Regions from separate parts of the Homo sapiens genome. Here region 2 is linked to region 1. Evidence: fine-mapped expression QTL. Tissue or cell type: lymphoblastoid cells. Region 1 holds a variant in brackets; the other region holds the start of a gene. All regions are shown on one strand. Distances are from middle to middle.

Region 1 (8,292 bases):
TTCATCCCAGAGGGGCACCCGCCTGTATGAGGTGTCTGTCGGCCCCTACTGGGAGGTTTCCCCCAGTTAGGCTACACGGGGGTCAGGGACCCTCTTGAGGAGGCAGTCTTTGGTTCTCAGAGCTCAAATGCCATCCTGGGAGAACCACTGCTCTCTTCAGAGCTGTCAGACAGGGACGTTTAAGTCTGCAGAAGTTGTCTGCTGGCTTTTGTTCAGCTATGCCCTGCCCACAGAGGTGGAGTCTACAGAGGCAGTAGGCCTTGCTGAGCTGTGGTGGGCTCCGCCCAGTTTGAGCTTTCTGGCCATTTTGTTTACCTAATCAAGCCTCAGCAATGGTGGACACCCCTCCTCCAGCCAGGCTGCAACCTCTCAGGTCCATCTCAGACTGCTGCACTAGCAGTGAGCAAGGCTCCATGGGCATGGGACCCACTGAGCCAGGCACAGGAAAGAATCTCCTGGTCTGCCAGTTGCTAAGACTGTGGGAAAAGCGCAGTATGTGGGCAGGATTGTCCGGTTTTTCCAGGTACAGTCTGTCATGGCTTCCCTTTGCTAGGAAAGGGAAATTCCCTGACTCCTTGTGCTTCCTGGGTGAGGCGATGCCCCGCCCTGCTTTGGCTCATTCTCTATGGTCTGCACCCACTGTCCAACCAGTCCCAATGAGATGAACCAGGTACCTCAGTTGGAAATGCAGAAATCCCACATGTGAGTGAGAACATGTGATATTTGTCTATGCTGGGCTTATTTTACTAATATAATGAACTCCAGTTCCATCCATGTGATAAGATTACATTCTTCTTATGGCTGAATAGTGTTTCATTATATATAAGCACCACATTTTCTTTATCCATTCATCTGTTGATGGACACTTAGGTTGATTCCATATGTTAGCTGTTGTGAATAGTCCTGCAATAAACATGGGAATGCGGATATCTCTTCATCATGCTAATTTCCTTTCTTTTGGATATATACTTGGCACTGGGATTGCTGGATCATATGGTAGATCTATTTTTAGTTTTTAAGGGAACCTCTGTACTGTTCTCCATAGTGATTGTACTAATTTACATTCCCACCAGCAGTGTATGAGCATGCCCCTTTCTCTTCATCCTTGCCAGTGTCTGTTATTTTTGGGTTTTTTTGTTTGTTTTTTCTTGAGATGTAGTCTTACTCTCTTGCCCAGGCTGGAGTGCAGTGGTGTGATCTTGGCTCACTGCAACCTCCACCTCCTGGGTTAATGCAGTTCTCCTGCCTCAGCCTCCTGTGTAACTGGGATTACAGGCCCCTGCCACCATGCCCAGCTAATTTTTATATTTTTAGTAGAGACAGGGTTTTACCATGTTGGCCAGGCTGGTCTCGTACTCCTGACCTCAGGTGATCCATCCACTTTGGCCTCCCAAAGTGCTGGAATTACAGGTGTGAGCCACTGTGCCTGGCCAGGATGCTGAATTTTTTTGAAAGCTTTTTCTGCATTTGCAGAGATGATCATATGGTTTTTAATTCTGTTTATGTGGTGAATTACATTTATTGAACCAACCTTGCACCCCACAAATAAAGCCTAATTGATTATAGTAAATTAACTTTTTGATGTGCTGCTAGGTTTTGTTTTCTAGTATTTTTTTGAGTATTTTGTGTCTGTGTTCATCAGGAATATCAGCCTGAAGTTTTCTTTTTTCATTATGTCTGTGATGAGTTTTGGTATCAGAATGATGATGCTGGCTTCATAAAATGAGTTAAGGAAAGATTCGTTCTCAATCTTTTGGAATAATTTCAGTAGGATTGATACTAGCTCTTTGTATGTCTGGTAAAATTCAGCTGTGAATCCATCCAGTCCAGAGCTTTTTTTGGTTAGTAGGTTGTTTTTTTGTTTTTTTGTTTTTAATTAAAATTGAATTTCAATTTCAGAATTCCTTATTGGTCTGTTCAGGGTTTCAGTTTTTTTCTGTTTCAGTCTTGGGAGGTTGTGTGTTTCCAGGAATTTATCCATTTCTTCTAGGTTTTTTATAAAAGTTTGTGTGCATAGAGGTGTTCATAATAATCTCTGAGGACTTTTTATATTTCTTTGGGGTCAGTTGTAATGTCACCTTTGTTATTTCTGATTGTGCTTATTTGGATCTTTTTTCTTTGTTAATCTAGCTATCTTGCTGTTTCTAGAATTCTTTATTTGTCTTTGATGTTTGACAATCTGACTGAAATGTGCTTCAGAGGGGACTTTTTTTGGTTGAATCTATTTGGGGACTTTTGAACTTCCTGGAGTTGGATACCCTTATCTCTTCCCCAGACTTGGGTAGTTTTCAGCTATTATTAAATAGGTTTTCTGTGCCTTTTACCTTTCTTCTCCTTTTGGAACTCCTGTAATACAAATGTTTAATGGTGTCCCAGAAGTCTTGTAGGCTCTCTTTATCCTTTTTCATTATTGTTTCCTTTTTTTTTCCCCTCTGAGTAATATTAAATAATGTATCTTCAGGTTCAGAGATTGTTTTGCTTAATCAAGTGTGCTGGTGCAGCTTTGTATTGTATTTTTAATTTCATTCATTGAATTCTTTTTTTTTTTTTTTTTCTGAGACAGAGTCTCGCTCTGTCGCCACGCTGGAGTGCAGTGGCAAGATCTTGGCTCACTGCAACCTCCGCCTCCCAGGTTCAAGCGATTCTCCTGCCTCAGCCTCCTGCATTCATTGAATTCTTCAGCTGCAAGTGTTTTGTTTGGTTCTTTTTTATGATATCTTTCTTTGTTGAAATTCTGATTCATATCATGAATTGTTTTCCTGATTTCATTGAATTATCTATCTGTATTTTCTTTTATCTGTTTGAGTTTCCTTAAGATCATTATTTGAATTTTTTTCTAGCTAGGTGTTGATTTCCTTTACATTTGGGCCTGTAACTAGAGAGTTACATTCTCAGCAGTGTCATATTTCATTGCTTTTTAATGTTTCTTGTTTCCTGCATTGATGTCTGTGCATCTAGTGGAACAATTGGCTCTTTTAAACTTTCCGCTTCTGTTGGGCTGTTTGGGAAGGGTGTGGTGACTCTGTTTCCAGGTAGGTTCAGTACTGTAGTCTCTTATAGCCTATTCAGCTGCATTCATTGTCAGAATAACTGTGGGTGCCTCAACAGCCTAGGCTGGAGAAGTTTGCAGTGGTGGTAGCTGTGGAGTAGATTGTTAATATCTTCAGTGGCAAGAGCTTTTGGAATCCTTCCATTCTTGTTTTCCCCACAATAGGGAGTTTTAGCCAGTGGGAGTC[T/G]TCTTGGTGGCAGGTCTTACATATCCTACAAGCAGCTGCCATGGTGCTGCAATCCAGGTGCAAGCGTTTGGAGTGGCTATGGGGCTAGGATCCTGGGCTCAGGGTCTTGCATACTATTGTAACACCTGGGTGTTAGGGTACAGGGTCACTATTGGCAGGGTTGGATGTAGGTTGCCTATAGTGCCAGGATCTGTGACTCTGAGGCACCCTCTAGCTGCTTGGGAAAAGAGTGTCAGGTTGTAGCTGTGAGTCTACCCCTGGTGGACAGGGCACAGCCCTGGCCCAACTCCAGGGAAGAGAGGATGCTCTGGAGGTTTGAGTCTGGGATGCAGGGTTTGGCTCTATTAGGAGCCTGAGCCAATAGGGCTTAGTGGCAACTCCTATCCCTGGGGATGAGGCACCATGATGAGGTGCCCTGGATGAGGCACCAGGTTCTAGTAGTCACTCTAGAACCTGGATTGGTGGAGCTCAGATGGATCCCAGACTCTGAGGCCAGGTACAGCAGGAACAGGCACCCCTGAATGGCCAAGCATGCCTGTTGTTTGGGCCCTGTGGGGCAGAGAGCAGCACAGCAATGACTTCACTCCCTAGAAAGAGAAGTGTCTCAGCAGCGCAGACTCTCCAGGGAAGCAGGGTACTAGAGTTATTTGCCCTGCAGGGCACATTTCTCAGCTTAGCCACTGCTCTGTTTCCCTGGGTCTCTGGGTACTACTTCAGCCCTGGGATGTGCAGCTGCTCAGCTTGGCCAGTGCAACAATTCCCCAAGGGTGATGTGCTGTTTCAGCTCAGGCTCAGGGGACGTGACTGTTCTGGGTGGCCCAGACATCTCATGGGATGCAGGGTTCTGCCAAAGTACTATTTTCTTGGGAGGGAGTACATGGCTGCAGCTCCTGCCTCAGGGAGTTGGGGGAGGGGTGGGTAGAGCAGTTCCACCTCTCTTGACCCCACCAGGAAGGGTGTAACAGCTGCTGGCAGCTCTGCTTGGGAATGTCAGGCCTTCAAGTAGGCCTTCATTCCTGGCTTAGCTTCAGGGATGAAGGGGTGCTGTGGCTACTGGCCCCAGAGCAAGACACACTCCAGCAGTTCCAGTTCCACCAGTATTCTCCTTCTGGTTTCATCAGCAGCACTCTTAATTATGTTCTCCTTTGATTTTGTCAGCATTTTATTGTGTTGTGTGATTGAGGGAAAGAGTTAAGTATCATTCTCTTCACTTTAACAAATAAGAAAACTGAGATGATATCCAAAGTTACATTGTAATTAAGAGAGCTGGAACTTGAACTCAGACCAAATATTTTTCTTAAATTTTGGTGCGTCACACTGGGACATTGTCGTAAGCAACTGAAGTTGTTAGGGCCCTTCGACAGGAATAATTAAATTGGTGTTAATTTCTTTCCTTTTTTAGCAGGGAAAAAATATGTAAGAAAAGATATTTTATTAAAGTGGATTGCGAGTTCAGCATTTGGGGCTTTGGAAAACATTTTTTGATTTAAGTTCCAAAGGAAAGTGTTTAGTGAAACAAAATAATAGAAATCTCAAATTTTAGCTTATGTATTAAATTTTTAAAAATTAGCTGGGTGTGGTAGCATGCACCTGTAGTCCCAGCTACTCAGGAGGCTGAAGTGGGAGGATCACTTGTGCCCCAAAGGTTGAGGCTGCAGTGTGCTCTGATTGCATCACTGCACTCCAGCCTGTCTCTGGTGGGGGGTGGGGAGGGGTACATATGTAGATATAGATCTATATATATAGATATCTATATATGTAGATCTGTATAGAGATATAGATATCTATATATACATCTGTAGATATAGATATCTATATATACATCTGTAGATATAGATATCTATATATACATCTGTAGATATAGATATCTATATATACATCTGTAGATATAGATATCTATATATACATCTGTAGATATAGATATCTATATATACATCTGTAGATATAGATCTGTACATAGATATATAGTAGCTGTCCTTTGTTTTTCATCCCTGTTTTCATAGGAACTCTTGTTGATTTTAAATATTTTTCATTTCTCTGTAAATACCTGACCATGATCTATAAAAGTCCAAAAAATGAGGTTCATAGATTTTTTTTGAATAGTAATCTTTATAGTTCTTTTCTTTCATGCTTTGTGTCTTTCCTTCAGGTAGCAAATTATGGAGTTGGAGGACAGTATGAACCCCATTTTGACTTTGCACGGGTAAGTGAAAAAGAAATGGAGAAATTCACTGAGGCTTATGCATTACATTGTTTGTCTCAAAACAAAACAAAAAAACAGTCTCACTCTGTCACCCAGGCTGGAGTGCAGTAGCACGATCTTGGCTCACTGCAACCTCTGCCTCCTGGGTTGGAGCAATTCTCCTACCTCAGCCTCCCGAGTAGCTGGGATCACAGGCATGCGCCACCATGCCCAGCTAATTTTTGTATTTTTAGTAGCGACAGGGTTTCGCCATTTTGGCCAGGCTGGTCTTGAACTTCTGACCTCAGGTGATCCACCCACCTCAGCCTCCCAGAGTGCTGGGATTACAGGCGTGAGCCACTGTGCCCGGCCGCATTACATTGTTAAAGAAAAAGTTATTCTTGACACTTGTTAAAGATGGTAAGGCAGACTTCATTCAAGGGGGGACCATTGCGATAGGTATAGGGACCACTGCAAATGCAGTGGGATTTTGCAGTAAGGGAGAGAGGTTAAGCCCAATTCCAAATACAACAAGGAAAAGTGGGAATTTATAGCCAATGAGCAAGGGTGGGTGTTAGTAGATGGAAAATTACTAAGAGGTAAGGGAAGATTCTGGCTAAACTGACCTAACAGGATTCTTGCTGAAGTCAGGGAAGAGTGATCATCATCCAGGGGATAGTGGAAGATGAAGAACCCAGTTAGGTTTTGAGGGTGATCACATGGCAAGGACGGGGAATTCTGGCTAACCTGACTTAGCAGGGTTCTTGCTTAAATTGGACAATGCAGAGGTAAATACCAGAAGCCCAAAGTCAGGGCCTACTTGAGAAGAAAGTTCAGAGGAGCCTGAGTAGTTGGGTCAAGGAGAGATTCTTTGTCAACATGTTAATTCTGTTATTTTAACATTAAAAATTCATAGCCTATTTGGAATTTATGGAAATACGGTGTGGCAGATATTCTGTGAAACCTTTTTACCAGTTAAAAAAAAAAAACCAAACACCTAGATACCCAATAAAATCACTTAAGATACTTTAAATGCATTGGCAAGCCTGGAAGAAAGTAAAGGGTGTTCCAAAAGGCAAACTGAACAATGATCCCAAACTTAGAGAATTAAAGAGGGGACAAAACACAGAGGCTGGAGGTATGTGCCTCCAGGAACTAGAGCTTTGGGAATAACAGCTCTGTAAGAGGAGGATCTGCCACAGTGTAGGCTGCTGAATTTGAGACCCTGGCATAAACTCTAAATCTCCACAAGGATTACACCTTCAGTAAAGAAAGAATGGGTTTGAAAATAAATCTCTTGTGATACAGGAGCCTTATGGGGAACTGTCTGTTTCCATCCTGGCTGGGGCATAGTGTGTATGATAGGGGAGCTACTTCAGGGAGTACTATGTATGGAATTTTCCACTTGTGTCATGTTAGCACTAAAAGTTTTGAACTTCAGAGCATTTTGCATTTTGGACTTTTGGTATGCTCAACCTGTATTCCATGTTACGGATATACCACAGTTTAGCCATTCACCCATCGAAGGACATTTGGATAGTTTTTAGTTTTTGGCTATTACAAATAAAGATGTGTTTACATTTCTATGTGAAAAATGCATTTTCATTTTTCTGGGAGAAATGCCAAGAGGTTGTATTGTATTTTAATTTAGATATAAATATTTAGATATTAATTCTTTAGCTTGATTATAGTGCTGAAAGTCACTTTACTAGCATTATTAGAAAAATAATACTAGGGGCCAGGCGTGGTGGCTCATGCCTGTAATCCCAGCACTTTGGGAGGCCAAGGTGGGTGGATCACTTGAGGTCAGGAGTTCAAGACCAGTCTGGCCAACATGGTGAAACTCCATCTCTACTAAAAATACAAAAAAATTAGCCAGGCATGGTGGTACACGCCTGTAGCCCCAGCCACTTGGGAGGCTGAGGCAGAAGAATTGCTTAAACCCGGGAGGTGGAGGTTGCAATGAGCTGAGATCATGGCACTGCACTCCAGCCTGGGCGACAGGGCAAGACTCTGTCTCAAAAAAAAAAAAAAAGAAAAAAGAAAATAATACTAGGAAATATTTCAGTAGGTCGTGAGTTCAAAGTAAGTCTCAAGGTAAATTAAGCTTCAGGAGTATAGCTAAGAGATGGCTGTCAAGTCATATTTTTTAGAAGCTAAAATTGTGGGTATTTGTTTTTAAAATAATATGTAGCTTGCAGATAATGGCTGTCGTTTAGGCTAATAAGTCTGCTTTTTATCCAGTAATCTTGTCTAAAGTATCCAGTATACAAGTTCAGTCATCACGTATTTGAGGCCAGGTACAGTGGCTCACACCTGTGATCCTAGCATTTTGGGAGGCTAAGGCAGGAGGATCGCTTGAGGCCAGGAGTTCAAGATCACCCTGGTCCACATAGCAAGACTCCATCTTACAAAAAGATTGCCTGATGTTTATAGTGCACTGGACATTACAAGGGAAACTTTTGCGGTTGTTGTTGGCATATTCTTCAGGATATTACTACTGATGTTTAGTTGCCACTAGAGTATTTGTATTACTGAATTTTTACACCATTGAATTTACTGTGTTTTTATTCACAGAAAGATGAGCCAGATGCTTTCAAAGAGCTGGGGACAGGAAATAGAATTGCTACATGGCTGTTTTATGTAAGTCGTCACTAAAATTTTTAGATTAAGTTGGGATTTGATGACAAGATTCATTTTAATGTTTTAAGTTTGTTCTGTGTAGCTCTGATTCAGCATCCTAGTTTAACATTTTTACAACTGAATAAAGTGAGTTAAGAATTATTTTGCACTTGCAACTTTTTCAGGCTATAAGATAGATGTTCATTATAGAAACTTCTGGACAAACTTAGAATTTATAGTGCCACTACCTGC
Region 2 (8,292 bases), 150 kb before region 1:
GTTAGTAAGCGATGAAGCCAAGATTCAAATCCTAGTAATCTGGCTCTCAGAGGAAGGCCTCTAGAAGGAAATGAAGAGTTTGAGATTTTAGTGAATTGTACCATTGTTCTATATAAAGATAAAGCTAAGAGCCCAGTCAGTGGAGCTTGCACTTTAAATTATTTCTCAAATTGTGGAGATCAATTTGTGCAGACTTACCTGTATGTCTCTCATTCAGTGGTCCTACAACCAAGAGCTTGTCTTTGAAAAAGTGGAAAGGATAAGAAATACAAATTCAAGCTATGAAATAGAGACTTAAGACATTTTTTAGTCTGCCAGGGAAATCTATGAATTGACAATTAGATAACAAAAAATATCATTAAATTTAATAATGGCACTATGACTACATACAAAAATGTCCATAATTTTTAGAGATGCATAATGACATATATAGGGGTGAAATGGCAGTATCTGCAGTTTTGCTTTCGTTATTTCACAGAGAGGTGCAGAGAAGTTAATAAAAGGATAAGGAGGCCAGGTGCGGTGGCTCACGCCTGTAATCCCAGCACTTTGGGAGGCTGAGGCAGGCAGATCACGAGGTCAGGAGATCGAGACCATCCTGGTTAACACGGTGAAACCCCGTCTCTACTAAAAATACAAAAAATTAGCTGGGCATGGTGGCGGGCACCTGTAGTCCCAGCTACTCGGGAGGCTGAGGCAGAAGAATGGCGTGAACCTGGGAGGCGGAGCTTGCAGTGAGCCGAGATGGCACTACTACACTCCAGCCTGGGCGACAGAGTGAGACTCTGTCTCAAAAAAAAAAAAAAAAGAAAGAAAAGGATAAGGAAGATAGATGAAGCAAATATATTAACTTTGTTAACTGTTGAATGTGGGGTGACAGGTAGTGCATGATACTATTCTCTATATGTTTATGTTTGAAATTTTTCATTAAAAAATGTTAAGCTGTATGTTGAAAATCATTCCTTTCCCATACTCTTTTCAACAATTATAATTTTTAATGGCTAGGTAGAAAACTAAAGTTACGGCTTCAAAGCAGGTTATCATTATTATAACATCTAAAGTAAAAATTGCTTTGAATTTGCTCCCATTAAGATACATTTTATCTTCATTATCTTCATTATTCACTTCATCCTGACTCCAGCTACAGAATCATCTTTTGGGCCTTATAGGGAGTATCAAATCAACAATCAAGAACAAGTAGGCCAGGCGCGGTGGCTCACATCTATAATCCCAGCACTTTGGGAGACCGAGGCAGACAGAGTCCAGGAGTTCAAGACCAGCCTGGGGTGAAACCCCATCTCTACTAAAAATACAAAAATTAGCTGGGCATGTAGTCCTGTGACTTGGGAAGCTGAGGTGGAAGAATCACTTGAACCTAGGAGGTGGAGGTTGCAACTGAGCCAAGATGGCACCACTGCACTCCAACCTGTGCAACAGAGACTCCGTCTCAAAAAAAAAAAAAATAGAAAGAAAACTGATACAACTATACTAGTTAATAATAATTCTGGCCCAACAAGTGCCTATCATTTTTTTCCATACAAGATTTTTTTTAACTTTCAGAATGGTTGGAATTAATCATAAAAGCAGATTTTTAGCTAAACCTCAGTCACTTTATTGGGAAAAGACAGTTTCCTCACAATTTTTTTTTTAAGTAGGAACAACACATCCCAAATCTAAGAGATGACTGTTTCTTCTTCCTAGTTCCCAAAGAGTTTACTAGGAACTAAACTGCTACCATGTAGATATCTTATTCCTTAATAAATAATAAGCTTCTAAAAGGCAAAGAGAGGTTTTAGACTTATTTTCTTTGTATGCCTATTGTATCCCAAGTAAAAGTGCGAAGGGACAAGGAAAATACCATTTATTGAGGATGTATATGTGTCAAGCTCCACACCATCACTTTATTCTTATTTTTATTTATTTATTTATTTATTTGAGACAGAGTCTTCCTCTGTCACCCAGGCTGGAGTACAGTGGTGTGATCTCGGCTCACGGCAACCTCCGCCTCCCAGGTTCAAGCAATTCTCATGCCTCGGCCTCCCAAGTAGCTGAGATTACAGGCATGTGCCACCATGCCCAGCTAATTTTTTGCATTTTTAGTAGAGACAGGGTTTCACCATGTTGCCCAGGCTGGTTTTGAACTCCTGAGCTCAGGCAATCGCCCACCTTGGCCTCCCAAAGTGCTAGGATTACAGGTGTGGGGGTCCACACCATCATTTTAAATAAGCTTTTGGATAAGGTGTTACTCCTATATTGCAGAAACGAAGGCTCAGTGATGTAGTAATTTGCCTAAAAGTCACGTGGCTAGAAGACAGCCTAGCCAGAAACCCAAGAATGATTCAAAATAGCATGCTTGCAATTATCATGTATGTGCATAATTAATATTTAATAAATTAAATAGTTAATAATTAATATTAATAGTTAATATATTTATGGTTGCTAAAATTACATAGCTAAATGAAAGGAAAAGTTAATATTTAATTAATAAATTTATGGTTGCTAAAATTATATAGCTCCATGAAGGAAAAAAAATTGGAATTTGGGGTTAAAGCCCAAGCTCAACTCCTGACTTTTTGGCTATATAATCTTAAAATATGTAACATTTCTGATATAATTTCATCTTCTGAAAGACTGAAGATAATCATACCCACTTTACAGAGTTGTTAAGATCAAAAAGTGAAGTGAGCTGGGCATGGTGGCTCACGCCAACACTTTGGGAGGCCAAAGTGGGAGAACCGCTTGAGTCCAGGAGTTTGAGACCAGCCTGGGCAACATAGTGGGACCCTGTCTCTACCAAAAAAAAATTTTTTTTTAATTAGCCAGTTGTGGTGGTGTGCACCTGTAGTCTCAGCTACTCAAGAGGCTACATTGTGAGGATCACCTGAGCCCATAGGTGGAGGCTGCAGTGAGCAAGGATTGCACTACTGCCCTCCAGCCTGGACAACTGAGCAAGACCCTGTCTCCAAAAAAAAAAAAAAAGTGAAGGCCCTTTTGGAAGTGTAAAGCATTAATAAATGTATGACACTATTATTACTTTCTAAATTATTATACACCACTTCGGTCAGGGTAGGGGGCAGCTCTTTTTATTTTTTTATTATTTATTTATTTATTTTGAGACGGAGTTTCACTCTTGTCACCCAGACTGGAGTGCGATGGCGTGACCTCTGCTCACTGCAACCTCTGCCTCCCGGGTTCAAGTGATTCTCCTGCCTCATCCTCCCAAGTAGCTGGGTTTACAGGCCCCCGCCTCCATGCCCGGCCATTTTTTTTTTTTTTTTTGCATTTTTAGTAGAGATGGGGTTTCGCCATGTTGGCCAGGCTGGTCTCGAACTCCTGGCCTCAAGTGATCCGCCCGCCTCAGCCTCCCAAAGTGCTGGGATTACAAGCGTGAGCCACCACGGCCGGCCGTGAGGGTGGATCTTTTTAAAGCCAGAAATATTTGCTCTTTAAAGTCTCAAAAGCAAAACTGATCTTTATGGATTCTGGTGCTTAATTGCAGAGGTGGGGAGGCAGTATGTGTGATGGTTATGACCACAGGCTTCGGAATCAGATCGACATCAGGTTTGTACCTCTCAGCTCTACCACCTTCAAGCTGTGTGATCTTTGGCATGCTACAATCTTTAATTCTGGGATCTTTATCTGTAGAATGTGCAAAATAATGTTCCCAATCTGATATCATTGATAGGAATGAGCAAATGTATGTAAATAGCTTTGCACAGTGTCAAGTGAGCACTTTCCTGGAGCCCTCAGTTAGCTATTAATAACTTCTCGAGCTACCATGGCCATTAACAATGGGACCTGAAGCACTGCGGATGCTACAAATGCTTCAGCAGACCCAGTGCTTGATTTCAGGAATTTCAGACGAAGGGCGACACGCCCTCAGCTGGAGATGGAGGAAGAAGGGGCAGGGTCCAGCAGGGCTGAGAGGAGAGAATTCCGAAGAAAAATCTCTCCCCAGCCCTGGGAAAGGAAAGGAACGAAGGACTGGTCAAGGAGGGTCCCCAGAGCGCCCGCCGCCCGCCCCGGCTGGGGTGGCTGAGCAGTCCACTCACAGCTCCAAGCTCTGTGGCACCGCCTTCCGAGTGTATCTGGAGATCATCCTCCTCCTCCTCCTCCTCCTCCTCCTCCTCAGCCGCGGCCGGGGCAGGCACGCCAGGGTGGGGGCCTCCGGGCCTGGCCCTCCCGCCGGCTCCGGCCCGGCCCCTCCCGCCACCTACCGGCCCCGTCTCGCCCCGTCACCTAGACTCCGAGCAGCCACCTCCCCAGGGTCCCCACCTCTCCAGTCCTCCGACCTCCCTGCTTTGCCGCGGGGGCGGAAGTGACGAAGGCCCCCGGACACTCGCAAAATGCTCCCGCCGACGCACAGCAGTGACGACACACAAGGTTTCGGGGACTGAGTGGGTTTCAGACTTTCTCTCAGGATTTCCGCTGGCTTCAGGTTCCGGTCAGGCGTCGGGACAGAGCCTGATCCAGGCTTCGGCGGCCGGTGGCAGCTCTCGATCAGCTCTCGCAGTCGGAGAGGCGGCTAAGGAAAGGTGCCACAGCAGAGACGCGAAGGAGAGGCCCTAGAACCGTAAGAGAAATTGGCTTCATTTTGTTAGATGGCAGGAGGGAGCCTAGACTGGGGAAAGAGCACTAGACTCCAAGTCAAGCCCCTGCTGCTTGGTCGCTTCTTTTTCTGTACTCTGGGTTTTCTCATATGTACAGTGAGGTATTAGCCTGAGTGATCATAGAGTCCCTTCCAGTTCTGACACCAAATTCTGCATGATGACGTGTGTTTGGCGTTATGGGGTGGATGGGTAAAATTACTGTCTGTCCCTCTGGGTTGAAAGGCAAAATGATGATTTGGTTAGACTGTGGTGAGTGGGTGTCTGGATAAGAAGAAGCAGGTTCCTTACGAGTCTCTTAGAAAGCTGAGTAAGATTGGAATCATGGAGTTAGGGTGGTCCATCCACCGCCATTTCTTTCTTTACCAAGCATCACCTGGCAGCAAGAATAAACTAGTACTCTTATTTAGGAAAACCCTTAGAAAATTAAGAGATAAGGAAAACCCTTAGAAAATTAAGAGGTATCAATGCAACCTCCATCAAAATACCAGTGACATTCTTCACAGTCATAGAAAAAAGATCCTAAAATTTATATGGAACCACAAAAGAGCCAGAATAGCCAAAGCTATCCTGAGCAAAAAGAACAAAACTGGAAGCATCACATTACCCGACTTCAGATTATACAACAGAGTTATAGTAACCAAAACAGCATGGCACTGGCATAAAAACAGGAACAGAATAGAGAACCCAGAAACAAATCCATATGTCTGCAGTGAATTCATTTTCAGCAAAGGTACCAAAAACATACATTGGGGAAAAGACAGTCTCTTCAATAAATGATACTGGGAAAACTGATACCCGTATGCAGAAGAATGAAACCAGACCCACTACCTCCCACCATATACAAAAATCAAGTCAAAATGGATTAGAGACTTAAATCTAAGCCCTCAAACTATGAAACTACTAAAAGGAAATATTGGGGAAACTCTCTAGGACATTAGAGTGGGCAAAGATTTCCTGAGTAATACCTCACAAACAGAGGCAGCCAAAACAAAAATGGACAAATGGGAGCACATCAAGTTAAAAAGCTTCTGCACAGCAAAGGAAACAATCAACAAAGTGGAGAGAGAACCCACAGAATGGGAGAAAATATTTGCAAACTACCCATCTGACAAGGGATTAATAACCAAAATATATAAGGAGTTCAAACAACTCTCTAGGAAGCAGTCTAATAATTGATTAAGAATTGGATAAAAACTCTGAATAGACATTTCTCAAAGAAGACATAAAAATGGCAAACAGGTTTATGAAAAGGTGCTCAATATCATTGATTATCAGAGAAATGCAAATCAAAACTACAATAAGATAGCATCTCACCCCAGTTAAAATGGCTGTTATCCATAAGACAGGCAATAACAAATGCTGGCAAGGATTTGGATAAAACACTGTTGGTGAGAATGTAAATTAGTGCAGTCACTATGGAGAACAGTTTTGGAGATTCCTCAAGAAACTAAAAATAGAGCTACTATATGATCCAGCAGTCCCACTGTTGGGTATTTACCCAAAAGAAAGGAAATCAGTATATCAAAGAGATATCTGCACTCCCATGTTTATCGCAGCACTATTCTCAGTAGCCAAGATTTGGAAGCAACCTAAGTGTCCATCAACAGATAATGAAGAAAATGTGGCACATACACACAATGGAGTGCTTTTCAGCCATAAAAAAAAAAATGAGATTCTGTTATTTGTAACAACATGGATGGAACTGAAGATCAAGTGGAACTGGATGGAAGTGAAATAAGGATGGCACAGAAAGATAAACTTCAAATGTTCTCACTAATTTGTAGGAGCTAAAAATTAAAACAGTTGAACTCATGGAGATAGCAAGTAGAAGGATGGTTTACCAGAAGCTGGGAAGGGTTGCAGAGGGTTTGTGGGGGAGTATGGTTAAAGGGTACAAAAAAAATAGAGTGAATGAAAACTAGTATTTGGTAGCACAACAGGGTGACTATAGTAAATAATAATTTAATTGTACATTTAAAAATAACGAAGTTCAGATGAGAGCATGTCCTGGCTATAAAAATTTTTTTAATAAAAATAACTAAAAGAGTATAATTAGAGTGTTTGTAACACAAAGGATAAATGCTTAAGGCAATGGATATCTCATTTACCCTGAGGTGCTTATTATGCATTGTATACCTGTATCAAAATATCTCATGTACCCCATAAATATATACACCTACTATTTACCCTTAAAAATTAAAAAAAAAAAACAGCACTTTGGGAGGCCGAGGCAGGTGGATCATGAGGTCAGGAGTTTGAGACCAGCCTGGCCAATATGGTAAAACCCCGTCTCTACTAAAAATACAAAAATTAGCCAGGTGTGGTGGCGTGCGCCTATAGTCCCAGCTACTCGGGAGGCTGAGGCAAAAGAATCGCTTGAACCTGGGAGGCAGAGGTTGCAGTGAGCTGCGATCACTCCACTGCACTCCAGCCTGGGCGACAGAGCGAGACTCCATCTCAAAAAAAAAAGAAAAGAAAAAGAAAAGAAAAAAAGAAAAGAAAGATATACCTACCATCCCATGAGACTTGAAAAAGGGGCAAATTTAGGACAGAGGTAAAATGACAGGACATGAATGTTTTGTAGTTCTGAATTCCTCTACGCCATACAATGTTCATAAAAGAGAGAGATGTACATTCTGTAGAGCAAGACAGATTGTACTTTAGAGTTTAAATAACAAAATTTTAAAGCAGGGAGAGATTTTAGAGATGGTAGATAACTTATCCTAAATTAAAGAAAAAAACCCAGAAAGAGAAAGTGAAATGTCCATAGTGGCACAACTAATTAGTGGCAGAACTGGGGTTTTTGATAGTATGTAAACAGTAGGTGTTAGTGCAGTGTTTCTCGAAATATATTACACATACCACTGCTAGTACAAGGGCAAACATTAAAAATTTCATTCTTCACTTCCAAAATAGGAAAAATATAAAAAGTAAAGATTTTATTCTTACATACTTACTAATTGGGGAATGTGATACTAGATTTCTATTCACTGTATTATATCAAGGTTTCCTTTTAACGTAATTTTAAAGATAAAGTTTTAAGTGTAAAGGGTCATTAAAAATAATATTAGGCCAGATGCCTATAACCCCAGCACTTTGGGAGACCAAGGTGGAAGAACTGCTTGAGCTCAGAAGTTCTAGGCCAGCCTGGGCAATATGGCAAAACCTTGCCTCTACTAAAAATACAAAAAAAGTTAGCTGGGCATGGTGGCATGCACCTGTGGTCCCAGCTACTTGGGAGGCTGAGGTGGGAGGATGGCTTGAGCCCAAGAGGTGGAGGTTGCAATGAGCTGTGATCATGCCGCTGCACTCCAGCCTGGGCAACAAGAGTGAAACTCCATCTCAAATAAATAAATAAAGTTTAAAAAAATTAAATAAATATTACTGTAGGTGGTGTATGGTTAAGGCCAAAACCATGGTGATGGTATGTGACTAAATTTTATTTTTTTATTTTTTATTTTTATTTATTTTTTTTTTTAGTTGGAGTCTTGCTCTGTCACCCAAGCTGGAGTGCAGTGGCATGATCTCGGCTCATTGCAACCTCTGCCTCCTAGGTTCAAGTGATTCTCCTGCTTTAGCCTCCCAAGTAGCTAGGATCACAGGTGCATGCCACCACACCCAGCTAATTTTTGTATTTTTAGTATTTTGTATTTTTAGTAGAGACGGGGTTTCACCATGTTGG

Which allele goes with the higher level. Positions count from the first base shown, and alleles are read on the strand shown. Sizes are in standard deviations (SD) of each study's normalised expression.
In carriers of allele G in region 1, the expression in lymphoblastoid cells of the gene that starts at base 4,320 in region 2 tends to be lower than with T alone (large effect, 1.1 SD a copy in GTEx).

What was found. PIP is the estimated chance that this variant, and not a neighbour inherited with it, causes the effect.
Region 2: it holds the start of FAM149B1, and the variant in region 1 is fine-mapped to the expression of FAM149B1 in lymphoblastoid cells (GTEx, PIP 0.93).

The regions. Positions count from the first base shown.
Region 1 is chr10:73,013,993-73,022,284 of GRCh38, reverse strand. P4HA1 (prolyl 4-hydroxylase subunit alpha 1) reads left to right here. Exons shown (of 15, transcript NM_001017962.3): 11 at 5,386-5,439; 12 at 7,996-8,061. Among named protein-coding and RNA genes, the nearest start is that of PLA2G12B, 63 kb to the right of the region's middle. RefSeq lists an enhancer at 3,407-3,966. The variant T/G (reference allele first, on the strand shown) is at 3,237.
Region 2 is chr10:73,164,147-73,172,438 of GRCh38, reverse strand. FAM149B1 (family with sequence similarity 149 member B1) reads right to left here and starts at 4,320. Exons shown (of 14, transcript NM_173348.2): 1 at 4,053-4,320. The coding sequence starts at 4,099. ECD (ecdysoneless cell cycle regulator) reads left to right here and starts at 4,431. Exons shown (of 14, transcript NM_007265.3): 1 at 4,431-4,573. RefSeq lists enhancers at 2,814-3,412, 4,307-4,506, 4,013-4,612 and a silencer at 4,067-4,256.